3 separate regions of the Homo sapiens genome follow, and all the other regions are linked to region 1. Evidence: fine-mapped expression QTL. A gene starts in region 1. Each other region holds a variant in brackets. All regions are shown on one strand. Distances are between the middles of the regions.

Region 1 (11,220 bases):
AGACTCCGTCTCAAAAAAAAAAAAAAAAAAAAAAAAAAAATTAGCCAGGCATGGTAGCACACACCTGTAATCCCAGCTACTCAGGAAGCTGAGGCAGAAAAATCGCTTTAACCTGGGAGGTGGAGTGCAGCGAACCAAGATCGCGCCACCGCACTCCAGCCTGGGCAACAGAACAAGACTCTGTCTCAAAAAAAAAAAAAAAAAGACACATTCTCAGGCCTCCCCTCCCTAATGAGAAACAATGGGGTGCAGCCCCAGCCACGTGTTCAGCAAGCCCTCTGGGTGCTTCTGCTGCACACAGGAGTTTGAGAAACAAGGCTAGTCTATTTCATGAAGTAGTGATTACGAGCCCCCCTTTAGAGATGAGGACACCAAAGCTCAGTGATTAAAGTGCCCAAAGCCACCCAGCCAGGAGGCCCATTAGTACCCACACCTCATTCCAAAGCTATCTGCCACATGGCCTTTGAAGCCAAATTAACTGTACCACTTGGTGTTCTCAGCTATCGAGCTGCTGCAACGTGCAACTACCTAAGAGGGGTGGGACCAAGAGGAAAAATGAAGCCTGCACTCAGAAGTGATTAATTATAAATGCTTTTAAATCCACATCATGCATTAGCCCTAAACAATCAGCCGTCCCCCAGGATGAGCCTACTTTTCCCTGTTCTATATATCAGCAGGGTTACCATGAAGAGAAGATGGGGAGTCCCTTTATTTACAGCCCTTTGCATGTCCAATTCCTTGTATTGCTTTGAACAGAAAGAGAATTAAGTTACCTGTCCTGTCTCTAGAGGGCTTGAAAGTGAAGCACACTCTGCCTAGACCAGGACCAACAGGAAACAGAATCAGGAAAAGGACTTTCTATGCCCAGGAACGAAGCAGGCTCCAGCACCTAGGTACTAGGGGAATGAGTCACAGAAAGAATCCAATGCATGGATAGGGAGCATTTTAACAATGTTGCGGATCTGGTTCAAAAGAAGACAGGTTTTTTGTTTTTGTTTTTTGAGACAAGAGTCTTGCTCTGTCACCCAGGCTGGAGACTCACTGCAACCTCCCCTTCCCAGGTTCAAGTGATTTTCCTGCCTCAGCCTCCTGAGTAGCTGGGACTACAGGTGTATGCCACTATGCCCGGCTAATTTTTGTATTTTTTTGGTCAAGACAGGGTTTTGCCATACTGGCCAGACTCGTCTCAAAAACTCTAGGCCTCAAGTGATCCGCCCACCTCAGCCTCCCAAAATGCTGGGATTACAGGCATGAGCCACCGTGGCTGGCCTAGGCTTTTTTTTTTTTTTTTTCAGATCAAACACCAAATCTAGTGTCTCTCAGCTAAAATGATCCATTAATTATTGACATTCAAACCACAGTGTTTTCAAAGGTTCTAAGGTTAGGAAAGAGCCAGAAATCTCGTTATTCACAATTCCCAACCTTCTAAATAAACTTGGTGGTGACTTTCAGACAACAAATTTATTCTATTATTTAAATGAATACCTATTATTTTGTGGGGCCTTCTACAGGGGCCAGTGGAGCAGAAGGGACCCAGGCCTGGGAATTACACAGATTCACTTTGAATCCTGGCTGTGCCAGTTCCTCACAGCTTACTTAACCTCTCTGGGCCTCAGTTTTTCTACTCACAAATGGGTGATAATCCCTATGTTAAATGTTGATGGAAATTACAGTGGTTTAAAAAAAGGCTGCTGAAACGGCTTTCAACATATACTTATTTCACTGTATTTGTTTTTCTAAGTTTCTATTTTTAGTTAACTTGAATGAACTAGTTAAGCAATAAAATTCCATTGACGAACTTATCAGAAAGTTTGTCAATTTTTTTTTTTTTTTTTTTTTTGAGACAGAGTCTTGCTCTGTCGCCAAGCTGGAGCACAGTGGTGCGATCTCGGCTCACTGCAACCTCTGCCTCCCAGGTTCAAGTGATTCTCCTGCCTCAGCCTCCCGAGTAGCTGGGACTACAGGTGTGCACCACCACGCCCAGCTAATTTTTGTATTTTTAGTAGAGATGGGGTTTCACCATGTTGGCCAGAATGGTCTCGATCCCTTGACCTCAGGGTGATCCGGCCGCTTTGGCCTCCCAAAGTGCTGGAATTACAGGCGTGAGCCACCATGCCCGGCAAGTTTGTCAATTTTCAAAAACTCAACAGATGGACATAAACATTCATTTCACAATGCATCTGACAAAAAACAAATGTGCTCTTCCCATCCTCAACCACCTTAATCATATCACCCCACCTCCCTCAGTCCACTGTTAACTTGCAGTGTGTCTCTTCATCCCCATGAGACTTGGTCCTCGAAGTAGGTAACAGGTATAATAACATTTTGGAGTCCAACAGATCTGTTCAAATCACTTACTGGCTGCGCGACCTCGAGCATGTAACTTAAGCTCCCTAGGCCTCAGTTTCCTCACCTGCAGATGAGGTGGATAAACCTATGCAACTGACACACAATTGCTGAACCAACAGTAGTGATTTCAGCAACAGTGCGACAGAACAGTAGGGAGCCATAAAAATGTGCTCCCCTGCCTCGAGGAATACTGGTGACAAACCTTTACTGAGCATCTACCATCTATCAGAGACCGAGCCTGGTACTGGAGAAGTAAAGACAAGCTGACCACTGGCCTCAAAGACGTCACAGTGTCACAAGAGCCCCAGATACACGGACAATGTCGTAAGTGCACCAGCAGACTGTGTGGGTTGGTGAAGGTAGGATAGCAGAGAAAAAGGGGCCAAACATCGGACGAGCTAGACGGCAAAGTATTGACAGAAGAGGTCTGTTTACACCGAATACATGAGTTAAAAGTCCAGCAGACAAAAAAGGGATACAAACTACGTAATTCCTCACATCTTTTCCAGCCTCAACTTCCCCGAATCCAAGGCCGGCCATGGTGGCTCACACCTGTAATCCCAGCACTTTGGGAGGCCAAGATAGGTGGATCACTTGAAGTCAGGAGTTCGAGATCAGCCTGGCCAGCATGGCAAAACCCTATCTCTACTAAAAATACAAAAATTAGCCGGGCATGGTGGCACACGCCTGTAGTCCCAGCTACTCGGGAGGTTAGGCAGGAGAATCACTTGAACCCAGGAGGCAGAGGTTTGCAGTGAGCCAAGATTGCGCCACTGCACTCCAGCCTGGGTGACAGCGTGAGACGCCATCTCAAAAAAAAAAAAATTCCCCAAATCCAAGCCCTTTGACTTCTCCAAGGCTCAGGGTCACCAGGTATACATGTCATAAAATGACAACAATCGTGGTCCTTCACACCCCTATACACCAGAGAGAAAGGTTATGGGGAACAGTGAGAACCGCCAGAAAACTTAGAAAATTTTAATGTACTTTCCAAAAGTATGACAAGGACAATTCCATGCATAAAAATCTCATAGTACTTCAGTTCACAACCGAAAGTTGCCGCTCCTCCTAATTAAAGTTAAAAAAAAAAAAAGTCCGAAAACTTTTCAACTTTTGCAGGACTCTTATCAGAATCCCAATTCTTGGGAAATCCTCCGCTCATTATGGAAGAGGGTTAGTGATAACAGAGAATTTCTACAAAGGTTGGGTCATTTTTCAAGGCTGCATACACGATGCTAGATATTATCACTTGAAAGTTTTACATTTCTTCACACCTCGAGTGCTTGGCCCAACACACACTGCTGGAAGTTTTCCACAGAGCTCTCCATCTGGCCAGCTCAGGCTTCAGAGAGGCAAAAAGCCTCTGTAAACCAGGGAAACTTGGTACATCCCACAAGACAATCCGAACTGGCTCCTGGTCCGGGGACTTGTGGGACGCAGTCCTGAATCATGCCTTACAGTAACTTACACTTTACCAAAATCTTTAATAACCAGTATCTCATTCCCTGCTTACAAAAGAATAGCCCAGTGAGACTGGTAAAGATGACTAGCCCAATTTTAAAACCAGGGAAATAAATAAGCTTTTAAAATGTAAAAGTAAAAATACAGATAAATAAAAGATTTAGGCCGGGAGTGTTGGCTCACGCCTGTAATCCCAGCACTTTGGGAGGCCGAGGTGGGCGGATCACATGAGGTCAGGAGTTCGAGACCAGCCTGGCCAACGTGGCGAAATCCCGTCTCTACTAAAAATACAAAGATTAGCCGGGCGTGGTGGATGGCGTGCGCCTGTAATCCCAGCTACTCCGGAGGCTGAGGCAGGAGAATCGCTTGAACCCAGGAGGCGGAGGTTTCGGTGAGCCGAGATCGTGCCACTGCACTCTAGCCTGGGTGACAGAGACTCCGTCTCAAAAAAATAAATAAATAAAAAATTTAAAAGTTTAGGTGCGCTTCCCCAACACAATCACTTGTCCCAAAAACAAGCACCGAACAAGTACCATTCAGAAGCAAATTGTAGTCCCTTTTGATGTTCATTTAAATACAGATGAAAACTTAATTATCAATGCTAACTCAATCACTGCTGTGCCAGATTCAGCATAAGATTTTGTCAGCACCTAAAATTCTGTATCTAGAGCTACAAGAGGCACGTTTTCTGCCAAATCTTCGTTATATTACATAATGAGAGGAAGCTTGGATTCTTAAAATTCACCTTTTCCCATCATTTTAACACCCTGTTCCAATCCCTTCTTTCACAGGATATTTTCTGGAGGTGAAAAGGAATAACTCATTACTTCTCATATTTTCCTGCCCACTTTCTTGCATAAATATTAAAAATAAAGGGGAAGGTAGGGTCCTGAACATCTCCCTAAAAGATAAAAAAGTTATTAAATGTGGTAAACAGAGCCTGGAGACCTAGCTTCTAGTTCTGCACTGACACAGTATCACTGCGTGACCTTGGGCAAATTACTGCAGTTCTGGGCCTCAGTTTCCCTCATCTGAACCCTAATGATGGTTAAGCCCTCTCCGCTCTTAAAGCACAGATTTTAGATACGTCCCCAGGGAAGCACAACTGTGAAGGAGTCGCCCAGACGGACTCCTTGGGCGGAGAAACGGCCTTCCACAAGCTCCGGCGGGGGGATTCACAGGGAGCTCAAGCTGCCCCAGGGAAAGCCACTGGGCAAACTTCAGGTCGCAAACAAAAACCTGTTGGCACCGACTCCTCTAGCAAAGGCCAGCCTCCCAACGCGCTCGGCTCTCGGCTCTAGGGGAGCCGCCCCACAGGGAGAGAGAGGAAGTCTCTCCTGGAAGAGGCCAGACCCCACGCACCCATTCACCCACCCGGATCAGCCGAGCAGGACCGCCGGGCCGGGTGGGTCTCTGCCATCCCACGCGGAACAAAAGGCAGCTGGAGCCTGGCTCTTCCGCCCCCGTCCCCGCTGTTCCGTGGGAGTGGGGGCTGGGGAGTGGGGAGCCTGGTCCCCAAGGACGGAAGGGGGCCCTGCTACAGCCCCCAGGAAAGGTGAGACGGGCGGGATCCCGGACAGAGATAAGGACCCCTCCCCCGATTCCCGGAGGGCGCCCGGACCGGGCTCTGCACGGGGGCTGGCGGGAGACCAGGCTGGGCTCAGGAGGAAGGGGCGCCGGGCTCGGGGAGAGGAGGAACGTGCTCTGGGGAGGGGGCGGGGTTGTTCCAAGATGAACGGGGCTCCAGGATCCGAGGTAGGAGTAAGGGGCGCCCTGGACTCTGGGGACATAAAAGGAGATGCTCGGTGATAGGGACGGGTAAGGGGGGAGATCCTTGCAGCGGAAAGCTGGATCCAGATGGGAAGGGGGCCATGCTCCAGTCCGTGGGGCGGGGCCTGGTTGGAAAGAAGGGGATCCCCCAGAGCCTGGCGTAGGGACCAGCGGGGCGGCAGGGGCGCATGCCCTGGCGGGGCTGGTGAGGTAGGGGAGCCTGTGCTCTGGGGGCGTCCGCGCCCTGGAGAGGGGGAGGGTCCTCGCCCCGGGGACTCGCTCTGGCCTTGGAGCCCCACGGGCTGTGGCTCACCTCTGCTCCTCCGGGCCGGCGTGGGTGCGCCGCTGCGGCCACCGGCAGCGCTCGAGAGGCGGGAGCGACCGTAGCCCGCGGAGCCGCCGCCACCGCCGCGTCTGGCTCAGTTTGACACCCACACACCAGCCAACATGGCGGCCGGGAGGGGGCGCGCCGGACGCGTGCGCGCGCCCTCAGGCCCCGCCCCCGAGGCCCCGAGGTCCCGCCCCCACGCCCGCAGACCACGCCCCTGCGACCCCGCCAGAGCCCCTCCCTAGTGGCCCCTGCGCGGCTTCCCCTCCGCCTCCTGCGCTCCAGGACCCCACGCGGACGACCCACCCTTCCGCAGCGCCCCACAGTCGACGCCCGAGCCCCCAAAAAACCCCCAATCCCGAGCGCCACACAAACCCTGGCAAATTAATACCCGAACGCGCGCACTCTAATCCCCTTCAGGCCACTCCACCCCGTACACACTCACGGCCCCCCCACACTCACGGCCGGGCAGCACGCGCAGACCCCGCCCCGTCAAGCAGAAACTCACGCTCCGGCCTGCCGGTTTCACTCAAAAACCTTGTTCAGTAGGAGAGACTGGAAGGGGGCCAGGGCCTGCCGGGCGCTGGTAGGGTTGGGTTCTTAGGCTACAAGTGTGTTCACTTTATGAAGATGCGCGGAAGTACACTTTGGATTTGTGCGCTTTTCCGTGCGTGTATTTCACGTCAATAAAATATACTCAAAAACGGAGAAGTCTCTAGGCTTCTTTAGGCTGCTCAAGGGGTTACCTAAGGGCACGAATGGCAAGGGGTTACCTACATGGCACGAAAACGGAAACCCTTGACTGGCGGGCACCCACAAAGCACCTCCTCTGTGCCAAGCCCTGTGCTGGGCACAGAAATGAGACAGCCCCAAATGCCTCGAATGAGAGTCCCGGAACTGGAGGGGCCAGAACTGGAGGCTGCACCTCAAAGCTGACTAACCTGCTCCAATCAGGGTGGGAGTCAGCAGAGACTTCTCACAGCAGGGGCGCGGAGCATGAGTCAGGGCTTGCTAGGTGGGCAGAGGGCACCATCCCTGTTGCCTGGGTGACATCAACACTCTGCCTAGCCTTGGCTTCAGGGAAGCTGTGGCCAGAAGTCTTCCTCTGCCCTAACTCACTGAGGGACCTTAAACAAGTCACTGTACTTCTCTGAGCCTCAGATTCCTCCTCCCTGTACAGGAACCAGGGGATGAAAGTATCCCTTAAGGTTCTAACAACCCAGGATCTGGAATTCCATTCTCTGGCAAAAAAAAAAAAGGTTGTATCTTTCCAGGAATTCATCTATTTATTGTAAGTTTTTTAGTGTGTGTGCATAGACGTGTTCATAATAGTTTTTGAGGGCTTTTTTGTGTTTGTATGGGGTCGGTGGTAATGTCCTCTTTGCCCTTTCTGATTATGTTTACTTGTATCTTCTCTTTTTTCTTTATTAGTCTAGCTAGTGATACAATAAATACGATAAAAATGGAGAGAGCTTGTAACACGTTTGCAAAACCACATAGCCACTTTTCCTTTGAAAAGTCAAACACTGGTAGCTCTAGATGCTAGAAACACTCTCCAGTTAACCACCCTTCCCACTGCTTGGTGCCCCTTCTCCACCAGCAGAGGGAATTATGCCCTATGTGCCTGCCTTGCAGCAGAAGCCGGAGCTCCCCGTTTTGAACTTGGTCCACCCTCATCCCAGAGAATGCCCTCAACCAGTCCAACATTCCTTGTGAGCCTCACCTCTTTACCCCATCTCCAAGGAAAGCAGAACTTTACACTGCAATCATGCTTCTGCCCTGAGTTTACAATGTCAGATGAGTTATAACACAGAGCTGATGCACAGCACGGGCGTGATGCTTCTAAATCAGCACTGTTCAGCAGAATTTCCCTCCACGATGGAAATGTTCTTTCTGCGTGCTGTCCGTAGGATAGCTACGAGTCACAGGAGGCCAGCGAGCACTTGAAATGTGGCTAGTGAGACTGAGGGGCTGAATTTTTTAAACTTCATTAAACTTTTATTAATTTAAATGTAAATAGCCATATGTGGCTAGATGCTACCATGCTGACCAGTGCTGGTCTAAAACCTTACCACAATTCCACAAGTGCACATTCTTTTTTTATTTATTTGTTTTGAGACGGAGTCTCACTCTATTGCCCAGGCTGAAATGCAATGGCACAATCTCAGCTCACTGCAACCTCCATCTCCCAGGTTCAAGTGATTCTCCTGCCTCAGCCTCCCACGTGGCTGGGATTACAGGCCCGCACCCCCACACCTGGCTAATTTTTGTATTTTTAGTAGAGACAGGGTTTCACCATGTTGGCCAGGCTGGTCTCGAACTCCTGACCTCGTGATCCTCCCGCCTCAGCCTCCCAAAGTGTTGGGATTACAGGTGTGAGCCACCGTGCCCAGCAAGGTGCACATTCTTGCTGTTCACATTTTACAGACAAGAAATTGAGGTTTGGAGATATGCTGGGGCTTGGCCACCCAGGCCCACTTTTCCATATGCAGAGCCTAATACTCCCTTCACTACCCACCTAGCAAGTGTGTGTAGCCGCACAGATAATATGCAAGCCTGGAAAGAGAACTGGATACAGATAATGAGATGATGAGCTAACCTACAGGACAGGAAGTGAGTTGGAGAATACCAGATTAGCCCAGGCTTGGGAAGTGGAGGAGGGTGTCCTGAGGCCGGAAGACCGCCACGTGCAAGGTCAGAGGGGACATTCTTGCATTCCTCAAAGTCATTTCTCTTTCCTGGACCCCCTCCTTGAAGCGTATCAGCCCCCTGGCATTCCTCTCTCAATTCATCCTCATGATGATCCCTTGACGTCAGCAGCCCTATTCCTATTTTAGATGCGGAAACTGAGGCAGCATGTGGCAGGGCTAGGATTCAATTCCAGGTTCTATGAGTCTAGAGCACATAAGCAGTCTTGCAGAGGAACTTGCAGGATAAGCTGAACAATTTCATCCGTGCCCAAAGCAGTCCATGGAAAACAGGGCTGGAGGAGACACTCTCATCTGCCCTTGCAGAGGTTTGGAGGTTGGTTCCAGGTGGATAATGGAGCAGACTGATGGGGGCCGGTTGGAGAGGTGTATTTCAGAAGAAAGAGCTGGCAGTGCAGGCCAGGGGTGTCTCTGGGGTTAGGGAAGGAGGGTTTCAAGCAGGAAGGGACTTTGGGGGAAAGACTGGCAGGCAGCAGACAGGGACAGACTGCATGCTGAATGAAAAGAATCACTTAGCACAGGTGCAGAACAGGCTCCCCGGGATCTTCACCAAAGGCTTGAACTCTATATTCAAAACTATTTGTCCCACAAAAAGAAACTTGTGTTGGCAATCCAGAAACACCTAATTTCTTGTCCACCGACTTGCTGCTTGACCATGACGTCACTGCCCCTCCCTGGACCTCAGTTTCCCCATCTGTGAAGTGGGAATAATAACCCCTCCCACTCCCTAGGATTGCATTCTGGCTCAGGTGAAAAGGCAGAGGAGGAAATGCTTTGGAAACTGTAAATGCACTGGATGGGTGTTGATGGCAGTTCTCTTATTAAGGACATTGAAAAGAATGGAGCCATCCTTTCCCTTCTAGGGGTTGAAAGTCTAGGACAGAGAAGTTTTGAGTTTGGGCAGCATGAACATGAGCAGAAACCAAATGCCACATAGACAATCAAGAGAAAGAGCTATGACAGCTCTCACAGGAGGAAGTTTCCTTCTAGCCCATGGGGAAGGAAGGACCTGTGCCAACATCCTGGAAGTGCAGGTGCTGGAGAAAGGAACTAGTAACAATGACAACAAAGTAGTGAGCATTGTGCAAATGTTTTGCATGCAGTACCTCATTTCCTCTTCATAAAAAACCCTAAGAGGTAGAGACTACCGTTATCCTTATTTTACAGCTGAGGTTCAGAAAGCTTCCATTATTTGCCCAAGATAACACAGCTAAAAAGTGGTAACCCTGGAAAACCCAAGCCTAAACTCCAAAGCTAAACTTTTTTTCTTTGTTTTTTGAGACGAAGTTTCGTTCTTGTTGCCCAGGCTGGAGTGCAGTGGCGCGGAGTTCACCGCAACCTCCGCCTCCCAGGTTCAAGCAATTTTCCTACCTTAGCCTCCCAAGTAGCTGGAATTACAGACATGTGCCACCACACCTGGCTAATTTTTGTATTTCTAAATTTATTTATTTATTTATTTATTTAAGATGGAGTCTCACTCTGTTGCCCAGGCTAGAGTCCAGTGGCGCAATCTCGGCTCATTGCACCCTCCGCCTCCCTGGTTCAAGCGATTCTCCTGAGTAGCTGGGATTACAGGCATGTGCCACCATGCCCAGCTAATTTTGGTATTTTTTTAGTAGACACGCCGTTTCACCATGTTGGTCAGCCTGGTCTCGAACTCCTGACCTCAAATGATCCGCCTGCCTTGGCCTCCCAAAGTGATGGGATTACAGGCATGTGCCACCATGCCCAGCTAATTTTGGTATTTTTTTAGTAGACACGTGGTTTCACCATGTTGGTCAGCCTGGTCTCCAACTCCTGACCTCAGATGATCCGCCTGCCTTGGCCTCCCAAAGTGATGGGATTACAGGCATGAGCCACTGCACCCGGCCCTTCTATTTTTTTAGAGACGGGGTTTCACCATGTTGGCCAGGCTGGTCCTGAACACCTGAACTCAGGTGATCTGTCCACCTTGGCCTCCCAAAGTGCTGGGATTACAGGAGTGAGCCACCATGCCCAGCCTTTTGTGTGTGTGTGTGTGTGTGTATGTGTGTGAGAGAGAGACCGGGTCTTGTTCTGTCACCCAGGCTAGAGTGCAGTGGCACAATCATGGTTCACTGCATCCTCAATCTCCTAGGCTCAAACAATCCTCCTACCTCAGCCTCCCAAGTAGCTGGGACTACACCACACCTGGCTATTTTTTCCAATTTTTTTGTAGAGACAGGATCACATAATGTTGCCCAGGCTGGTCTCAAACTCCTGGAGTTGATCCCCCTGCCTCAGCCACCCACTCAAAGTGCTGAGATTACAGGGATGAGCCACCATGCCTAAAACTAAACTCTTGGGAAGAATCTGAATAGGCTGAAGGGAGCGACTCCTTCTCCCTTCCAGCTCTGAGCCTGAGTCAATCAGAGCTTTCTCTCCCTGGTCAGTGATTAGTTCAGGAATGGGCACCTGACTCATAGCAGAGCAATGACTCTCAAGCCAAGCCTGGGACTTCTACAGAAATCATTGAAAAAAGAAGCTTCTAGGGGCCGGGGTGCAGTGGTTCATGCCTGTAATCCCAGCACTTTGGGAGGCTGAGGCGGGCAGATCACCTGAGGTTAGGAGTTTGAGACCAGCCTG
Region 2 (11,220 bases), 72 kb before region 1:
ACTCCAGCCTGGGCAATAGTGAGACTGTCTCAAAAAAAAGAAAAAAAAAAGTTGAAATGGTGAATTTTATCTCAAGTTCTTAAAATTTGGGAGGGCAGATTCACATGGGCAGCATTCCTAGGTGAAGCAGCAGCCCATCAAGCCCACCAAGTTGCCCCCATTCATCAGGGGAGACTCCTCCGCTCACACCCCCTGGACTCCTGTACCGAGTCTCACCCCAGGGTGCTCTCAACATGGTATTGCTATTACGCTATGTTCCTAGAGGGTCAGGTCAGGTCCTTGGCTCGGCCCAGAACACTGGGTCCAGGGCACAGCCCTGTTCACCAGCCAAAGGAGGGGCTGGGCATAACTTGGTCATTTAAAGATATTTTGAGATTTTTGTCTCTCCTGACTGGGAAAAACTTACCCCTGGTAAACAAGCCAAACAATATAAAAAGGTAAAGTGTTAAAACTAAGTCTCCTTCCCACCACTCTGATCCCCAATTCCCTCCCCAGAATTTAACTCTATTAAACCCACCTGGCTCCTGGTGTGACCACTTTCTTTACAGGGCACTAAGACAACTATCCGACAGTTTAATGAACAGTCTTTCCTGAAAACATCCTAACCATAACTTATGGTGGCCATCACTTTACAGACTAATCATTCTTCAGATTTAAAAATAAAGCCAAAGCCACTGTCTAAAAGGGTCTGCCAGCCCTGGGGCACCACAGTCCCCATGTGTGGTGAGTAAAACCATACCACAGGCTCCCTGGGGGTACCACACACAAGTGACAAACCTTGTGAACCAACCTCTTGAGCAGCCCTGGAACTGGCCTTCAGTCAATGAAAGCTGTGGGCAATTTTGCCTGGGGCTTTTCCCAAGGCCCAGAGGGCTCCTGCCAAAGGGGGTATAAGGCCCTGCCTGGGTTACAGAGGCCACCATCAAGCTATTGGAACTCACCAGATGCTAAAGGGCATCGGGGGCTGACAGTGTCTTCTGGACCAAGTCCAAGCACTTGGTAAGGCTGAGTGCAGGCCCTGAGTGATCTGGGCCCTTCTCCCCTGCTTCCCAGTTCACACCAGCTGGTTGCATCTGCACCCACTCCACCACTCCGTACCCCTCTGCTTCTCACACGCTGAGTCTTCTGCAGGGAACTCCCTGCCTCTTGGTGCCTGGACACCTTCTTTTCCCTGGGGACTCAACGGAAGTGGCCTTCCTCCAAAATGCTTACCTCACACTCCTGGACTCCTGTACTGAGTCTCATCTCATCCCAGGATGCTCTCAAATAACCTCCATCGAGTCCTGGACTACACAGTACTGCTATTACGCTGTGTTCCTGCCCTGCCCGCTCCTGAGCAGGGCCTTGACAACAGACAACAGGGACAATAATCACCTGTTGTCTCAGGGGTCATGCACAGCAGAACACAGCCTGTCACTTGGTACATTTTAGCAAACATCTAGGGAACCGAGTTAAACACAAGAGACGGTTCTGAGAGAAACAGAGACTCCAGGAGATACAGGCAAGATGCCACAAGATATACAAAGTTCCCAAACAGCCCACAGGTCAGCCACGCCCAGTAGGGTTTAGCACACCAGGAGGGGCCTCCCAGGGCACCAGGCCAGGAAGCCTTCATAAAGCCTGCTGGGCCATGCTCCTGCCCAGTGATTAAGAAACTCGTGGGCCCAAGATCATCACCCAAATCAAACCAGTTGTGTCATGCTCACATTTTGAACTTCCCACCACAATTCCTCTTACATCTCACATTAAGCAAAACTTTAAAATATTCATTTAGCCTATTAAACGGATTTTCTATTGCTTTAAGTAACAAGCAGAATTATAGCAAATGTATCCCCTTTTCATCAGCAGTGGTGGTAAGCACATCATAATTTCCATCTAATTACAGCAGCTTGATTTGGATGTTCCATGCTGTGTATTTTGGTTCCTTCAGCTGGGACGCTGGGTGTAACGCTGAGGCTGCAAGAGTTGAAACATGTCCCAGAGAAGGCACAAGCCATTTCTGATGCAAATGGGAGGTTGAGGGGAGGTTGACTTTCCTTCTCCCAAAGCAGAAAACCACTCAAAACAAAGAGGGAACACCATGCCACCATCCTCAAGGAGGAGGGCAAGGGCCAGTTGGATATCACTGCTGAGGGCTGGAGGAGCCTGGACACCCACCACAATCGACCAGACCCAAGTGGGTGAGAGACAGCAAGAAGCACTGCCCTGCCCCTCACCCATCCAGCAGGCAAGCACGGGAGACCAGTAATGGGGTCTTTACCAAACGATGGCCAGGGGTCTGAAGTACTCGCAGGAGCCGCTGGCCCGCCCCAGGGGTTGGTCTGGTTAGTGGAGGCTGACGGGCCCCAGGGCTCTGCTTTCTGGGCCGCGGGGCCCGAGCTGGGGAGAGCATCCATTAAATCCAACAGCGTAGTCTGCTGTGGGAGAGAGCCATGCTTTTAAGACAAAGAGAAGGGGACAGGTTTTACTATGCTACAGTTACAGCAAATACTCATGAACTAGCCATAAATATCACCCACCTGTGCCTCTTCCTCCAGTGAAGCCCTCTAGGAGGGGCTGAGAAGAACTTGGAAACTGAGCCGTCCCATCTCCCTCCCCGTCCAGCCAGCTCTCCAGTCACAACAAGCTATTTACTGTTTGCTAAACCCCCTCACCAGACTTCAGAGACCTCAGGGCTCAACAGACTTTTCCAGGCTAACACTGGCTTCTGCCCAGGCTGTGGACCTCCTCCAGAACGCCATCCCTCCCACCTGCCAGCCACCATCCAGGGCCAGCCTGAGGGCCCTCCTCCTCGGGCACCTGCATGCTCCCCACTCTCAAGACCACCCCATGTGTCATCAGGGATCATCAACATCAACCAGTCAGGAGCCAGGGGCTCCACCGGCCTCAGTAGCACTGTAACAGAGGAGGCCAATGGAGCCCCGGGGCCTGTGGTGTAGAAGGGGTCTGGGTCTTGACTGGATGATGATGAGCTTGTCAAGAGCCCAGCCATGTCCTGGTCATCTCTACATCACAGCAGGAAGCCTGGCACAGGGCTGAAGAGGCAACCAGCACTTCTGGGGGCACACCCTGCTGCAGGAAAGCGTTCCGCAGCCCCTGGCATGTAGCTCACTTGACAGCTGCCGTAGCCACAGCGGCAGGAGGCAGGCACTATCATCACCTCCATTTTACAAACGAGCAGACTGAGGCACTGGGACATTAAGTGTCTCCTGGTTAGTTCAGGTGTGTTTTCAGTCGCTTGCTCACCTGGCTCTCGCTCACTACAGGCATGAAGGTTATTTGCTGAGGTTGGAGAACTCACTGTGCATCACGCCATCCAGGCAAGTTGGTGGGGGGATATTGAGGCAACAACTACAGGACAGGGTGAAACATCTACCCTCCCAGCAAGCTCTTACCTCTTTCTTTTTTGGAATTTTAACTGTGTCCCTTCGGCTTTCTTCCAGGGCCATCTGTAATCTGAGGTCATCACCCCGCCTGAGGCGTTCTTCCTGTAGAGGGACAATGCAAACTGGTAATTGTAATAACATCACTGTACAGAACAAAGCCACACTGGCCAGAAACAGGAAATGCACATTGTATGATGCAGTATTTCAAAGGAAGATTTCAAAACTACTTGTAAAACACAATTACTTTCAAATCCCAAATGTGTGTGTACCCAGAAGGCCCCTCCCTCATGGCGACTCCTGTGACTTGGACCCCTGTGGGGTCACACCAGGGAGACTATGGCTCAGGTACCACCAAACTGGGGAAAGGGAATGCTTAATCTAAAATATTTTTTTCTCAAAATGAAACTGGCTTTATAAATTCTACTTATAGAAGCAATGTGTGTCCTTATAAAACACAAATCTGACAACCCAAAAAGGAATTAGAAAGAAGATAAAAATCACGTATCATTCCACCTCCACTGTGTATGCTTCCGGAAAATGGCTGCATATTTCTATGATTCCTAACAGAAATGATTCACTATCTTTATTTAAGGCAAAGTCACCATATGCAAAAGACAGGGTTGTCCTAAGCTTTTATATAATATAATAATTAAATATAAATAATATATTCCTTGTATTTTTTCTTTTCTTGTTTTTAAGAGATAGGGTCTCATGGTATTACCCAGGCTGCTACACAGTAGCTATTCACAGGGACAATGCCACTACTGATCAGCACGGGAGTTTGAACTTGCTCCCTTATATTTTATTATAAATATTAACTAAAATGGGCTCAAACCGTCCGTCTGTCCCTATGTTTCTCAGTGGATGCTACCACGCACCTTCTTCCTGGGCTGCTGGCCATGAAGCCACATGCATCCACCTGGGCAGTTACTGGTGGCCTGTTTCCCACTGCAGGGACAGAGAGGCCACAACTGAGATTGCCCACTGTCACTGAGCTTTAGAATGTTGCCAGTTATAGACACACAAACAATGCCGGGATGAACTTGTCAGTACTCAAATCTAACTATCCCCAGTATTCCTCTCTGAACACCAACTTCTAATAGAGGAGAGGAATCCCTGTGCTGCCCCTGGTCCCATCTACCTTTTTTAACCAAAGGTCATTGGAGACAGCCCTGATAACTGCAACCAAAGGCTTGACAATTTGTAAGGCCACTCTAATTGCTCCTTTCCCTTCTCGCTGTTGTAAAGTAATGCATGCTTACTAAAGAAAAATGGGGGCCAGGCACGGTGGCCCAAGACTGTACTCTCAGCACTTTGGGAGGCCGAGGTGGGCAGATCACTTGAGGTCAGAAGTTTGAGACCAGCCCGACCAACATGGTGAAACCCTGTCTCTACTAAAAATACAAAAATTAGCCGGGCATGGTGGCACGCGCCTGAAATCCCAGCTACTCGGGACGCTGAGGCACGAGAATCACTTGAACCCAGGACGCGGAGGTCTCAGGGAGCCAAGATTGCACCACTGCACTCCAGCCTGGGTGACAGAGTGAGACTCTGATTCAAAAAAAAAAAAAAAAAAAAAAAAGAAAGAAGGAGAAAGAGAGAAAGAAAAGAAAAGAGAAAAGAAAAGAAAAATGGGAACTGAAAAAAACTAAAACTATACATACTTCCATCATCAAAACACAAGCACTCTCATTTCGGGAGCATTTTTTCCCAGCCTTTGTTTTTTGCAAATCTCTTGCTACAGGTCAAAGTGCTTGGCGGGGGCTGGGCTGGCTCCTGCCCCTCAGGCCTGCATCCCTGCGCCCACCCTGCATGCCACCCTTCAAAGAGCCTGTGCAGGCTCAGCTCACTCAGGGAAAGCCCAGACACGTGTCTGCACAAGTGTTTCTGGGAAGCATTTTTAACTGGTTTCTTTCCTTGGCAATGACTTCCTAGAAAATCTTTCCTAAATGTAACTTTGCATGGGATCCCTCCCTGACTGGGAGGGACACTGGGTGACAAGAATACACACTTACGGCAGCATGAAATGCCATCTCAGCAAGCATATCTGAAATGTTTTGAAGACAGGGCTGTGTCTGCCATCTTCTTCCCAGTGAGCCACACTCCACCCTGAGCATGGGCAGTCAATGCA[G/C]TGCAGACCTGCCTGGGGCACTGACCTGCTCAGCCACTTCTCTGCTCATGGCAAGTGCCAGCTGCAGCTGAAGCTCCTCTTCTCCACTAGTCTGGGGCCGGGCTTGCTCCAGCTCGGAGGACACTCGCGGGGAGGTGGCTGTTGGGGAAGACCAAGTCATCATATGCAAAAGACAAGGCTGATACAGCTCCTGCACAGCAGTTTCCTGGGCAGACCACATTCCATTCCCATCTCAAACCCGCAAGGTCCAGCAGTAGCCCAACAATGCAGGCAGAGGAAAGGAAAGGCTTACAAATATTTGAATGTTAAAATCAAGTGACAGTCAAACGTAGCTTTCCCAACTACAGAAGTCCCCTGGTACCAACCAAGAGAAGATGCCTTTGGGTATGCAAGCCCCAGCCATCAGGCCTCACAAGGATCAGAACCTCAGTCTTCACGGCAGATCTGCAGTGCTCCAAAAAAGGAACTAACTCAAAGACCCAAAGTATAGCTCTTGAACAGATGAACCAAAGAGCATCCTTCAAACAGGTGGAGGGCATCTGGAGACCAAAGACTCCACTCCAGGCACACCAACATTCAAGAGCTGACTTTTGAGGCCAGGCGCGGTGGCTCACGCCTATAATCCTCACACTTTGGGAGGCCGAGGCGGGCGGATCACAAGGTCAAGAGATCGAGACCATCCTGGCCAACATGGTGAAACGCCATCTCTACTAAAAATACAAAAATTAGCTGGGCATGGTGGCGTGTGCCTATAATCCCAGCTAGCAGGAGAATCACTTAGAGACCCGGGATATGGAGGTTGCAGTGAGCCAAGATCTCGCCACTGCACTCCAGCCTAGTGACAGAGCGAGACTCCGTCTCAAAAAAAAAAAAAAAAAAAGAGTTGACCTTTGTCTCTCGTAGTGTTACTACGAGATCATGGAAAATGAAGCCCGCCCATTTCTGCAGTGACCCCAAACATTTTCGTTCTGTAAGCAGCTTTGTACACTGATTAGAAAGAAATGCAGATAAAAATGCAGACACTTTTGCTGTGCACTTAGCTAGTTTAAATACTTCTAAGCAGCTCCTGGAAAGACAGTTTTTATTGAATGAATGAGATGTGAACTCCTAGCTGATGTAACAAACCCCACGGGAGTCTTAACATTCACAACATAAACCATGGTGCTGGGTGCTGGGGCTTACACAGCCATCAGGATGTTTCACGATCAGGGAATCTAAATGCTTTTAGAAATTATTGTAGTTTTAGAAGTATGTGCCCACCTCTGCCCCCGTTTCAGGAAGGGTCCATAGCTTCTCTAAAACTCTCAGAACAAGACCTGCCCTCTGAGAGATTTGGAGCTACTGCTTTAGATGGTTCCTTGCCCTGTCCTCCTCCCGGGTCTCCGTGCAGGCTGTTCCCTCAGCGCACCCACCTCCTCTTTTGTAGTCAGAGCTCGGCTTCCCGGACCTGGTCCTTCCCCTCCATCCTGATGCTGTGTCAGACTCTGCACCTCTGCACCTCTCCCTTGTAGCACTCACCCCTGGCTGACAAACACCTGTTGGGTGGAGGCTTACATGCATGCACAGACAGGTGCATGCACAGGTCGACAGATGGACAACTACAGAATTCAATTTCATGGTTAACGGGTCATTTTAAAATGTTCTAATTGTGCCGGGCATGGCGGCTTATGCCTGTAATCCTAGCACTTTGGGAGGCTGAGACGGGCGGATCACCTGAGGCCAGGAGTTCTAGACAAGCCTGGCCAAAATGGTAAAACCCGGTCTCTACTAAAAACACAAAAATTAGCTGGGTGTGGTGGCGGGCGCCAGTAATCCCAACTACTTGGGAGGCTGAGGCAGGAGAATTGCTTGAACACAGAAGGCAGAGGTTGCAGTGAGCCAAGATCAAGCTACTGCACTCCAGCCTGGGCAAAAGAGCAAGACTGCATCTCAAAAAATAAATAAATGTTCTAATTGTGTATTAGTTTACTTCCTTCTTTCATTACATCTATTTTAGGAAACCTAACTAGCAGGATTCATTCACCTAGGTGTTGCTTCTGCCTTACTTTCCAATCTAAATTTGCTTCTTAGGGTTTTCCTCTTTGAGAGAAACTAAAAGGTTAGGAATAATTCCTGACAAAGGAGGCTTTCAGATAGCTGGGCCATGGCTATGGTGAATAAAACAGGGGAAGAGGCCTAAATGCAATTCAGGCCACAGACGGGATCCACAGAAGAACCAGGGGAGGTAGAAAGAGGCTGCTTCTGGGCAGAGGGCTGAGGTGGGGCCGGGCAGGAGACTGGGAACTTCTCTACCATGTGAGGTTGCCAAGCAGAGGCATCACCCTGTCATGAAATTCTTAAAAACACACAAAACATATAGCAATAAATTTACTTTGGAACGGGCCGGGCACAGTGGCTCACGCCTGTAATCCCAGCACTTCGGGATGCCGAGGCAGGCAGATCACGAGGTCAGGAGATCGAGACCATTCTAGCTACGAGGTCAGGAGATTGAGACCATCCTAGCTAACATGATGAAACCTCATCTCTACTAAAAATACAAAATAAATTAGCCGGGCATGGTGGTGGGCACCCATAATCCCAGCTACTCAGGAGGCTGAGGTAGGAAAATGGCATGAACCCAAGAGGCAGAGCTTGCAGTGAGCTGAGATCGCGCCACTGCACTCCAGCCTGGGTGACAGAGCGAGACTCCATCTCCAAAAAAAAAAGAAAGTTGCAGCTATAAAAACATAAATGTATTTTTCTAAATAAAATCAAGTCAAATCCCATCCTAGTGTTATCACTCAATTATATTTCCCAAAGTATCTCTTCAGAAATAAAGCTAGAGGGTAAAGAAAAGTCCTCAATCCACCTTAACAACTTGATTTCTTAATAATACACCAAAACAAAAAGTATATTTTTTTGTTCGTTTTGTTCCTAAACTTCACCTATGCCAATCAGAACTCTCAAGTTTGGGCTTTCCTATGTTCAAAAAGATGTCACCATCCACATGGAAGAGAATAAAGGAAGCCAGACAGTTCCTGGGGACTCTTCTCAAGTGAACAGGGCACTCACACCCAAATCATTAACCACTCCAGCCACCTGTTCCCAGCCTCTTTCCTGATAAGGAATCTCTGAGGCTTGGTTCACAAAACCCTTGCTATAAAGCAAATATTGCACTTACGACATCCTTCATTTACTACCAAATGGAAACCACAAATGAATCAAGTAGAAGGCTCATATCCCACCCCACCCCAAAAAAAGTGCTCTGGAAAACAAGCCCCATCCTGGCAGGGAAGCTGGTACTGAGTTGCACAGCTACAGTGCCTGATACAGCCAGGTTGGAGGGGGAGAGTGGGCACGGGGCTCTGAACTGGACCTGCTGGAGAAGTGAGGCCTCCTTTGTCCTCTGAGCTTTCTAGCACATCTGCAAGGCCAGAATAGCTTCAAATGCAAATGTACATGTTTACGTCTACCATAACTGACACTGTTAGAATAACGCACAGCTGGCACATACTGGCTCACCACATCATAGCTCGTCACATCAATGTAGAAATTAAAGACAATGGGTATTCCCCTGAATGTTGTGGTTTTCATAAACGGATGTACAGCTTTCAGTTCTGCAGATGGCAGAATTCTTGGCCACCAACCATTGAACATCAGCTGAGCTACACACAACGGGACTGAGCTTCGAGGGAGGATTCCAGCAGAGATATTCTTGCCTTGGTGACAGCAACTCAGCTCCACAAAGGGCCTCTTGTGCCCATGCACATGACAGTGAACACAGACGTCGTTGTGAGACAGGCCTGAATGGGCCCTTCTGACCACCTGAGCCTGGCCTTGGCTCTGCTCTGAGGATCTGAAGGTTCAGAGCTCACAGGGACCAAGGGAAAAAGCAAGTGCTGGGGGATGTGCCACTCTCTCATTGTTGCAGGTTGCTTTCCCAGACACTCACTGGAAGGAAGAACGGGAATTGTTAGTTTAAGCTCATCACTAAAGTCGCATCAAATGCACGGACCTTCTCCCAGGAAGGCGGCCTTTTGCATTATGAACCCCACTGGAAGAGCTCCAAGTCTTCACTTGCTGTGGTCAAGAACTGTAACCACAGGTAGGCCTTATTTCTATCCTTTCCAGTCTGTCACACCAGCTGAGAAAAAGCCTAAGGGGGAGAGGCTGAGTAGGAAGGCTAGAAAAGCCCAACATTTCCCTCAAAATACAATCTAAAAAGAAGACCAAGAAAACTCTCCCAACTCAGGCAGACAAGGGTCTCTCCCACTCGAGTCCACCCTGTCTGCTCCAGGGACTGCCCGGCAGAGCCTGGGTGCCTGTACTCTGTGCTGGGGGAGAGACACCCTTTCCCAAATGCGCTCCTAAAACAAAGGGTGAAAGATTTTTTAATAAAGATGCTTCAGTGGGCCACTTTCAGGTAACTGTGAAAGAAGGCAATCGAGTTGGTAGAAAAACAGGAAATTGATTCTTATCAGCTACATTTTGCAATTTTCCTAGAAAGTATGGAAGCAGCATCTGCCAGTCACATAGTGCTGATTAAAAAGCCTCCTCTAATCTGCATGGATAGGTCAAACAGAAAGAAAGTGGCAAGTACAAAAAACACAAATGTAGGCTAGGCATGGTGGCTCATGCTTGTAATGATGTCACAGCACTTTGGGAGACCGAAGGGGGTGGATCACTTGAGGCCAGGAGTTCGAGATCAGCCTGGCCAACGAGGGCAAAACCCTGTCTCTACTAAACATACAAAATTTAGCTGGGTGTGGTGGCACGTGCCTGTAGTCCCAGCTACCCAGGAGGCTGAGGCATGAAAATCACTTGAACTAAGCAGGTGGAGGTTGCAGCGAGCCAAGATCATACCACTGCACTCCAGCCTGGGCAACAGAGCAAGACTGTCTCAAAAAAAAAAAAAAAAAAAAAAAACCAAAGTATATTTTTACATTTTACAGCACATGGGACAGGATTCTACCATCAAATGGCTCTGTGCAGTGGGCAGCATGACTGCACTGGTACGTGAGCGTCACAGACCCTGTGGAGAAGGCAGGGTGAGGTCCTGGTTTTCCTATGTCCCTGGGCCTGGTGTGGCAATGCTGGGTACACAGGCATGTCTGACAACTCAGAAAAAATGAAAGGTTGCCAGGCCTTGGGGGCGTGAGAAGACCCCATGTGGGCCCAAGCACTGCTACCACCTCTCACACCCTGTGCATGTCAGCCAAGGGAAGACCAGATAGTGGAAAGAGCACTGGACGGACAAATCTTGTCCCCACCGCTGACAAGCAGTGGGAGTCCATGTGATAGCCTGACCTCTTTGAGCTTCTGCTCCCACATCAGTGAAATGAAGACAGTGGGGCCTGTGGGAGGAGGTAAACAACTGACCTACCAAGGGGTCAGGAGTGCTGGGATGCAGTTGGCTCTTCCCTGTGGATTCCAGCCCTGTCCTGAGCTGGTGCTCTTTCCTCCATCCATGGGGACCAGACCACCTGAGGGCTAAGCTCCTTCAGACACCCCACCCTCCACGTCACACACAGAAAGCGTGGCCCTTCCCAGGCCTCCGAGGAACAGGCCTGGGGTTGCTTTCTGCTGGGCTGACCTACTTCGAGGGAGGGGCTAGGGAGCCAGCACTGAGCACAGGGTCAGCGTCCACTGTCCAGTGGCCAGTTCTCTAGTTCAGCTAAGTTCCTTCCTTGTTACTGAACAGCAGTGAAACGCTTCCTCAATGTG
Region 3 (9,378 bases), 83 kb before region 1:
TACTAGCAAAGCCCTCTGGGTGGATTTGCAGAAGGGGAGGATTTTTAAATACCGATTCCATACCTTCCATGATTACAGATTTCTATTTATAGGTTTTTTATTATTCTTCAGTTAGCTTTGCTGTTTCCTTTTTAATTTTATCCATTTTATCTAAGTTTTTGGATTTGTAAGCACAGAGCTGATCAAAGAGTCAGCCTCTCACCCGACATGAAATCCTGAGTGTGCCGGCAGTTATGCTGTTTCATTCCTAATGCTGTTTGTGCCCTTCCTCTTAAAAAAATTTCTTGCCAGAAATTTGTCTATTACTCTTTTCAATTACTGACTTGTCTTTACGGATACTATTATGTGTTTATGTTCTTTTCATTAATTTCTATCTTTATCCTTATAATTTCCTTTTATTTTACGTCAGTGTAATGCTATTCTAACTTCATTATATCTTTTTTACTAATGTGAACATTTAGAGCTATAAATTTATTTTACTATTGCTTCAGTTGTCCCACAAATTCTTATGTAAAAATATACTATTGGCCAGGCGCAGTGGCTCATGCCTGTAATCCCAGCTCTCTGGGAGGCCGAGGTGGGTGGATCACCTGAGGTCGGGAGCTTGAGACCAGCCTGATCAACATTGAGAAACCTCATCTCTACTAAAAATACAAAATTAGCTGGGCGTGGTAGCACATGCCCGTAGTCCCAGCTACTCGGGAGACTGAGGCAGGAGAATTGCTTGAACCCGGGAGGCAGAGGTTACAGTGAGCTGAGATCACGCCATCGCACTCCAGCCTGGGCAACAAGAACAAAACTCCGTCTAAATATATATTTAATTTGGTTCTAAATATATCTGATTTTCATTATAATTTTTTCTGTGACTCAAGAATTTAGAAGTGTTCTTAAAATTTTAGGTGTATGAAGGTTTTCTACTTATCCTTTTAACTGATTTTTTACATAAGTGTACTGTGATCAGAAATTGTGTTATATGTGATACCAATTTTTTGCAATTTGTTGAGACTAGCTTTTCTGTCTAGGACATCATCAATTTTTTCCAAGTATTCTGCATGTGACTGCAAAGAATGTGTATTCTCCAATTGCTGGGAACAACAAATTCATAAGCTTATGGATTGTGCCGCTCAAATTTTCTTATATCCTTATTACTTCTGAAATGTTCTCCCAAATTATTTCCCATTTCCGATGCTCTTCATTCTGTCCTGAAGATCTGAGTTTCCATCTGGTTTTCCCTCCTATCAGCCTGAAGAACTTCTCTTAACATTTCTGTGGTACAGATGTGCTGGCAACAAATTCTCTTAGTGTTTTATTAACAGATGTCATCCTTTCAACTTTACTCTTCAAGAACACTTTCACTGAATACAGAATTCTGGGGGTTGGCAGTTTTTGTTGCTGTTGTTGTTTCCAAATTTAAAATATCTTTTTTAAAAAAATTATCAATTCTTGGAAGAAAGATGATTTTGCTAGCAATGGCTTTCTAGTTGACTGTGTTTTTCTTGCAGCACACTGAAGACTCTATGCCACTCAGACATCTACTGTTGCTGTCAATAAGTTAGCTATCCATTTAGTTGCCATTTCTTTGTAATGAATGGCCTGTTCTCTGTAGGTTTATTTAAGGTATTTTCTTCCTCTGGTGTTCTGCAGTTTCCTGATGATATGTCCAGGTGGGGATTTCTTTGATTTATCTTGCTTAGGATTCACCAGGCTTCCTGGATCTGAGAAGGAGCATCTTTCCAAAATTCTGGAAAACCCTGTCAGCTTTCAAATATTAGCTCTTCTGAAACTCCAAACAGATATGTGTTAGGTGTCCTCACTCTGCTCCCGTGTTTACCCCCAGCCACACTGATTCCCAACTGCTTCCCAAATGCCTGGCATCTTCTGGGCCTCTCCGGCCCTCTTATTTTCTCTTCCTGCCTTCTCTGACTCCTCTGGAATCCCCCCCTTGACTTTTAGATCACTTATCATACAGCACCATAACTATTATTTAACTATGAGTCTCTCATGCACTGTAAACTCCCTGGAGTGAGGGCTACCTTCAGCCCTGGCACCAGACATTAGGGTGGCACCCAGCAAGCTTGTGACAGCCTGGCTGAGCTCTGAGGCCTAGAGAAAGGCAGCAGAAGGTGGCAGTGATGTGTCAATCTCAGAAGACCAGGGAATGCTCCCCTGAGCCTCCGAGACAACTAGTCTCTTCCCTCATTCCTACTCTGAATTCTACAAATGCTTCTCTTAAAAGCCCCAGCTCTGCTGCTCAAGGATGGACAGGTGAAGAGGAGACTCCTTGGCTTTCAAAAAGATGAACCAACTGCTAGGCATCCTACATGTAGCTTCATGCCTTCTCGTCTCTGAAATGCTGAATAGCTTTAGTAAGGGCCTATTAAGCCACACCAGCCACTACCTTTTTTTTTTTTTTTTTTTAGAGACAGGTTCTTGCTCTGTCACCTAGGCTGGAGCGCAGTGGTGCAATCACAGCTCACTGCAGTTTCAACCTCCTAGGCTCAAGGGATCCTCCCACTTCTGCCTCCCAAGTAGCTGGGACCACAGGCACACACCCCCATGCTGGCTGATTTTTTTATTTTTTGTAAAGATGGGGTCTCCCTATGTTGCCCAGGCTGGTCTCACAGGTTTCAGTTGTCCCACAAATTCTTACGTAAAAATATATTATTGGCCAGGCGCAAGGAGACACTGCACCTGGCCCACCAGCCACTATCTTGGTGGCCTTTTTCACTTTTGGCCGGGATCAGCTACTGGCTAGCTGTAGCAGCACTAGGAGGGAGAGGAGGAGAGTGCTGCCTTCACTCCTTCCCAAGCTTGCCCCGGCGATGGGGGCCTGGCCAGGCCAAAGCAGATGTCAATCTGCAAGCTTTGTTCCCAACATCCCATGGATACTTGTGCCTTTCGTTTCCTCATGGCCTGTCCACTCCTGTTTGGACTCAGGGCTTCTCCTGCTACTGCCCCAGAACCCACAACCTTCTAGAGGCTCCAGAAATAACTGTTTCCATCCAGAAGCTTCTTCTGACACTTCACTCCTCGTCTTCCAGTGTCTCATGCAGATCGTCCTCCCCCAGGACTGAAGCTGCCCTTGCCAGGTCCACCTCTGCTCGACATGGGGAAGGGGCTATCAGTAAACAAAAATCTGCCCCCTGCTGGAATCACACTGTAGAGACAAGCCCTCACTCTAACCCCCTGCAACAGGACACCTTGTGGGTCCTCAGCTCTCTGTCCCAGCTGGACGTAAGTGGCATGGTGGAAATGACAAATCAGGGAGAGAGCTGACTGCAAGCCGAAGAGCTGTGGTGTGACTTCAGGACTGCGGTGACACAACACAGAGGACACGGGAGACCTGGGGCCAAGTGCCAGGCTGATTCTGGCCCCCTGTGGAGCCTGGGGGAGTCAACATGCCTTCCTCACTGCCCATGCTCAGCAGCCCAGCTGTGCCTGGATAACAGACTGGAGCCTCGCTTTCCCTGCAGCCCTGACCATGCATCATCTCCCCTGCACAATATCTCACTCCCCAGCTACTATCCCTTCCCACTTGCCTCTGTCAGGGGACATGCCCCGGTTACTTCTATCCCCCACTCCTGCTTTCTCCTGCAAGGATGCCCTGGTTCTCCTTGGAAGAATTCTCCCCTCACCCACTTCCAGTCAGTCTCAAAAGGGACAGATCCTGCCCTGGCAACAGAAAAGGGTTCTCACTGGTTAAAGTCAATCTGCAAAGTGTCCCCAACTCCAGTCCCCCATCCCTAAATCCCAGAAATGGTACTGGAGCTACAGAGAAATCCACTCTCTCTATTCCCTGGGCTGTGTTAACTGGGACTATGAGGTGGGCACCAGAGGCAGCCACTGTGCGTGCCAGAGCAAAGGGTTGAGCTTCTGAGGTGAACAACACAGCAAAGGGGGTCTGAGTGTTGGTGGTCACCTCCTAGCCACTGGGTCAAGCTGAGGGCAGCATCACATCTCGAACAAACTGGCTCCCCTGACATACTGTATGTGGGGCACTTGCTGGGAAGGCCCAGCCCCCACTCTGCAGCCTCTATGCCAGCCCGCCATGCAGTTCCCACTCTAAACCCAGCT[C/G]AAAACCCTTCTCAGGGCACTCATGCCGCTTGTGTGCATGTGAGACTGCATCTGTCCCCCTTGCCAAAGCATGTGCTCCATGAGAACATCGGCTGGGTCTGCTTTGCTGCCCATCCCCGAGATCCAAGCCTGACACACAGAGGGTGTGCTCCATCACTAACTAGGGATTGAAGAGAGGTCACAAGGATCAAGGGACCCACAGGACCTCAGGCTGGCAGGGACTTTGCAGTTTATCTGCATCTCTGCACACTGGAGTTCAGTGACCACTTCTAACAGGTTCTGGATAAATGTCCAATTCAGGGGCTCAGAAACACAACCAGATTAGAGTGGCCCATAATCTCCATCCTGATTATCTAAGACATGGAGCTTTCAAGTGTCTTAGACTGAGTGGTATTCATGCACCCTGGGCCAGGGGGCACCAGACTAGTGGTTCTCAACCATGGTTCTTCTTGGGAAGCTCTTAGGGATTTTAGTAAAATACTGATGCTGTCCTCTGCATACACACAGATTCTGGGGTGGGCCTGAGCATTTGGATTTTTAGAAGCTACTGAGATGACTCAAATGGGCAGACAGGATGCATAAGAAACACTGAGCTCTGGGTGCACCCAGACCTCTCACCAAGCCCTCCTCAAAAATGAGGCCCCATGTGAGCACCCAGCTCAGACTTACAAGCCTGAGTGGGCAGATGCGTGGTGGAGACAAGCTCTGGTCTCCCACGGTCACCTTGTTCTATCCAAGCAACATTTGGTCAGCAGTCCCCAGGCCTGGCCCCAGGATGGCCCCTCCCTCTGAGATAGAGAAACAGACAGCCACTACAGCCAGCATGCGGGTCACAGGCAGCCATCAATGGCAAGAGGGCAAGAGGCAGGCCTGAGGACGGGGTGACCACATCCCCTGAGTAGGGATGTCTGAGCCATGATTTCAAAAATACATAAGAGTTTGCCAGGCAGACAATGAGACACAATATAAAGATTAGGCATTTAAGGGAATCCAGGATGCCTGAGCCCCTGCAGAGGCCCTCACCAGAGAGGAGTCTCTGAGCTCTGCTCCGAGCCCCAGGTCCCTCAGGCTTCGCCTTTCTGGCCTCAGCCGCTGCACACCCAGGCTCCCTGCAAAAGTATAATCTGTCGCTGGGCATGGTGTAATCCCAACGCTGCTCACGCCTGTAATCCCAACACTTGGGGAGGCCGAGGCGGGTGGATCAAGGTCAGGAGTTGGAGACCAGCCTGGTCACTATGGTGAAACCCTGTCTCTAATAAAAATACAAAAATTAGCTGGGTGTGGTGGCAGATGCCTGCAGTCCCAGCTACTTGGGAGGCTGAGGCAGGAGAACTGCTTGAACCTGGGAGGCGGAGGTTGCAGTGAGCCCAGATCATACCACTGCATTCCAGCCTGGGCAACAGAGGGAAACCTTCTCTCAAAAAAAAATAAAAATAAAAAATAAAAAAAAAAGGGGCCAGGCGAGGTGGCTCACGCCTGTAATCCTAGCACTTTGGCAGGCCAAGGCAGGTGGATCATGAGGTCAAGAGTTCAAGAACAGCCTGGCCAATATGGTGAAACCCCGTCTCTACTAAAAATACAAAAAAATTAGCTGGGCGTAGTGGCACTCGCCTGTAATCTCAGCTACTTGGGAGGCTGAGGCTGAGTCAGGAGAATTGCTTGAACCTGGAAGGCAGAGGTTGCAGTGAGCCGAGATTGCGCCACTGCACTCCAGCCTGGGTGACAAAACGAGACTCCATCTCAAAAAAAAAATTTAAAAAGTAGAATCTGTCCTTCCATCTAGACGTACTCTCAGACAGTGAGGTTCTAAACACAGTTTAAACTAATAGGTTTATATCTTTAAGAGTTAACACAAGGCATTTTAACATTTCTGGAAATTTTTTTTTTTTGAGACAGGGTCTCACTGTTGCCCAGGCTGGAGTGCAGTGGCATGGTCTTGGCTCACTGCAATCTCTGCCTCCCGGGTTCAAGCGATTCTCATGCCTCAGGTTCCCAAGTAGCTGGGATTACAGGCACACACCACCACACCTGGCTAATTTTTTGTATTTTTAGTAGAGACGGGGTTTCACCATGTTGGCCAGGCTGGTCTCGAACTCTTGGCCTCATGTGATCTGCCAAACTTGGCCTCCTAAAGTGCTGTGATTACAGACGTGAGACACCATGCCCAGCCAACATTTCCGGAAGAATTCTTTCTACCATGAACTCTGCAATATGTGCAGTATCTCCACTGCACGGGTTCTGAAGCACTCTCCATGAGCCAGCAGCACGCTGACCCACCATCCAGGACTCATGGGCCAGGCTTCCACGTGAGAACCCCACACTCCAGTGGAATGCCACCTGAAACTATTCCAGAGACTCTTCTGACACCTCCAGTTAGCTCTTATGGGCCCTGCTTCCCCTTTAGAATCTGCTATTAAAATAACAAACAACAGCACTGCTAAGAATTTTAAAACTCTGCAACTGTATCATGCACAATGTTGAAACTACAAGTTTTGGCTCAGAAAGAACCCCCTACTCTTTTTTTTTTTTTTTTTTGAGATGGAGTCTCGCTCTGTTGCCCACGCTGGAGTGCAGTGGCATGATCTCGGCTCACTGCAACCTCCGCCTCCCGGGTTCAAGCGATTCTCCCTGCCTCAGCCTCCCAAGTAGCTGGGATTACAAGTGCCCACCACTACGCCTGGCTAGTTTTTGTATTTTCAGTAGAGATGGGGTTTCACCATGTTGGCCAAGGATGGTCTCGATCTCTTGACCTCGTGATCCGCCCACCTCAGCCTCCCAAAATGCTGGGATTACAGGCGTCAGCCACCATGTCCAGCCAAGAACCCCCTACTCTTATAGCCCACACAGACAAAGTTGGTCACAGCCCAGACAGCTTTGAACATAGAGTGAAGTCTGTGCTTGAATCAAATCCTGACCACCTCCAAATCACCCAGGTAATCATGGACAAGCTGTTTGGCGTGGGTGGGCTCTGTCTAGTTTGCATTCTGCAAGTGACACTGGGGACCCATGTGTATAGGACACTGCAAACTGCTGGGCTGAATTCAGACTATACAAATGGGCAAAGCCCCCCAGACACATACAAAGTCCCGTGGCCAGTGTGACCTCCTTCTTTGCTGTGTGCGGGGGAGTCATGGAAGGTCACACACTGTGGCACCTTGCTTTCTTGAAATGTGACTTGGAGACAAAGTCACAAAGTCACAATCATTCCCTGAGGGCCAGCTGTACCCTCAGGGAACGCCTGCTGGCTCGGGGAGGCAATGGGCATGCTCCTCCTCTATGAATGGACAGTAGATCCGCTGCAAGGCTTCTCTCTGTGCTCTCCCTCTCCACGTCCTCGGCAGGGTCCAGGCCATGCCACATACCCAATCAATAAATGCTTGTTGAAAGCTCAAGTGAATGAGAGGAAACGAAGATGGAACCAAGGTTTGAAAGATCAAGCAGTTTCCGGCCTCTTCCTCTGTGGGGCCCATTCACAGGGAGCCTGTGTCCCGGTCGCCTCCCACCCGCCAGCCTGGCTCATCCCGAGCCTCACAGATGAATATTCATGTGCACAGGGAGGCAGTCACAACGCGGGGGGGTGGTGCGTCACAGAAGAACTGAGCCGTGCAGAGGTCACCAAGAAGCCAGTAGCACCACCTGCTGCTGCCAGGGCGGAAGACAGCCTCTGTCCCAGCCCAGGCAGTGGGCGGGAGTACAGAGAGAGGGCTCCAGCCAGCCAAGGTCTTCTGAATCAGCAGGCTATAAGCCCTCCTCAGACCAGGTGGCTGCTTTGTGTGTCTGGAACAGAGGAGGAAGCGCCCCACTGACCTGGCAGGCTCCAATCTCCCTCCTTTCAACCCTGAGCATTTCCTCCCAAGGCCACTTGGCCAAGTTGCTCCTAGTGCTGCTTGGAAAAAACTGGTAATGATGGGGCTCACTACAAATGGTGGCTTTCAAAACAGTGTTTCTTTCATCCAGAGGGCACAGCTAACACTGTTAGGGGAAGGGACTCCAATCTTTCTAATTTATGAATGAGTCTCAGGATGGAGGGGTGACCCTGAAAATTTGCACTATTGGATTTAACTAGATGCTAAACAATAAATCCAATACCACACTCTTGCTCTGAGGCTACGCTGATGGAATGTGGAAGCAGAGGGTGTGCTAACACGCTTCAGTGAATGCAGGAGCTAGCAGAGGGCCATTCTCCTGCAGAGCTGGTCAACACCACCACTGAGAAAAGAATCTCAGAATTAAAAGAAATCACTGTGATTTTAATGTATTTTTCTATTGAAAGCAGAGTGCCAGAACTGCAAAAACACCCCTATGAACATCACTAGGCTGCTTAGTAAATGATGGTACAGCGTGGTATTGTTTAGAATTTCTAATGATGCCTAGAAATGCTCATGACACTACAAATTGAAATATACACATACATACACACGTAATTATATATACAATATAGCTTCAACTGAGTAAAAACATAATGCCCAGAAAAAAGACAGGAAGCAGACAAGCTAACATTTTAACAGTGGCTATCTCTCCATATTGGAATTTGTGGTGACTTTTCCAGGACATGCCAGGGCCACAGAAGGGCCTTGCAGCAGTCCAGGATGGTGTGACAACTACAGGACATGGTGCCATAAGCACTGAGCCTGTCCCAAACCTATTAACAATGTCTATGGGCTTTGGTGGCCTATCTCCTCCCCAAGTCACTGGTAATAATGCCAAGTGCATCAGAACCAAGAAGGTCCTAGGCTGGGCAAGTGGCAAGAGATGGCCAACTGGCAGTCAACAAGCCACATGTGCCCATCCTCAGATAGCTTTTAATTAGCTCAAACCATATTCTTAATTTTTAAAATTCACAGCCAACATTTAAACACTAGATTTCAAAAATCCAGGTTTCTATCTTCTCTTTAAAAAACTGGATTCATAATAGCCAAAATGTGAAAACAGCCCAAATATCCATCAATTGCTGAATGGTTAAACGAAGTGTTGTATATCCATGCAATGGAATATTATTCATCCACAGAAAGTCATGAAGGACTGACACACGCTATAACATTGATGAACCTTGAAAACATGATGCTAAACAAAATAAGCCAGGCACAAAAGTCCACACAGTGCATGACTCCGTTTCTATGAAATGTCCAGAGAGGCAAATCCCTGGAGATAGAAAGCACATACTGGTTGCCAGGGCCTGGGTATGCGGTTTCTTTCTGGGGTGATGGAAATGTTCTGGAATTAGATATCTGATGGTGGCTGCACAACATTGTGAATGTGCTGAAAACCAGTGAAGTGTCCGCTTTAAAATGGTTGAAATGGGCC

Direction of the effects. Alleles are on the strand shown, and positions count from the first base shown. SD is a standard deviation of normalised expression in the study named.
For the expression in tibial artery of the gene that starts at base 6,059 in region 1, allele C in region 2 goes with a lower level than allele G (moderate effect, 0.61 SD a copy in GTEx).
For the expression in spleen of the gene that starts at base 6,059 in region 1, G is the low allele of the variant in region 3 and C is the other (small effect, 0.26 SD a copy in GTEx).

The links. PIP is the estimated chance that this variant, and not a neighbour inherited with it, causes the effect.
Region 2: its variant is the best candidate, but not a certain one, in a credible set for the expression of EPN2 in tibial artery (GTEx, PIP 0.69).
Region 3: its variant is the best candidate, but not a certain one, in a credible set for the expression of EPN2 in spleen (GTEx, PIP 0.53).

Annotation. Positions count from the first base shown.
Region 1 is chr17:19,232,205-19,243,424 of GRCh38, reverse strand. It overlaps EPN2 (epsin 2), which reads right to left and starts at 6,059. Exons shown (of 11, transcript NM_014964.5): 1 at 5,894-6,059. RefSeq lists a silencer at 5,682-6,151.
Region 2 is chr17:19,304,320-19,315,539 of GRCh38, reverse strand. EPN2 (epsin 2) reads right to left here. Exons shown (of 11, transcript NM_014964.5): 5 at 5,543-5,655; 6 at 3,396-3,488; 7 at 2,261-2,435. It overlaps EPN2-AS1 (EPN2 antisense RNA 1), which reads left to right and starts at 9,279. Exons shown (of 3, transcript NR_048576.1): 1 at 9,279-9,601. RefSeq lists enhancers at 4,786-5,701, 5,702-6,618, 9,187-9,316, 11,145-11,220. The variant G/C (reference allele first, on the strand shown) is at 5,518.
Region 3 is chr17:19,315,781-19,325,158 of GRCh38, reverse strand. All of the region lies in intron 7 of EPN2 (epsin 2), which reads right to left. Among named protein-coding and RNA genes, the nearest start is that of EPN2-AS1, 14 kb to the right of the region's middle. RefSeq lists an enhancer at 7,454-7,993. The variant C/G (reference allele first, on the strand shown) is at 4,075.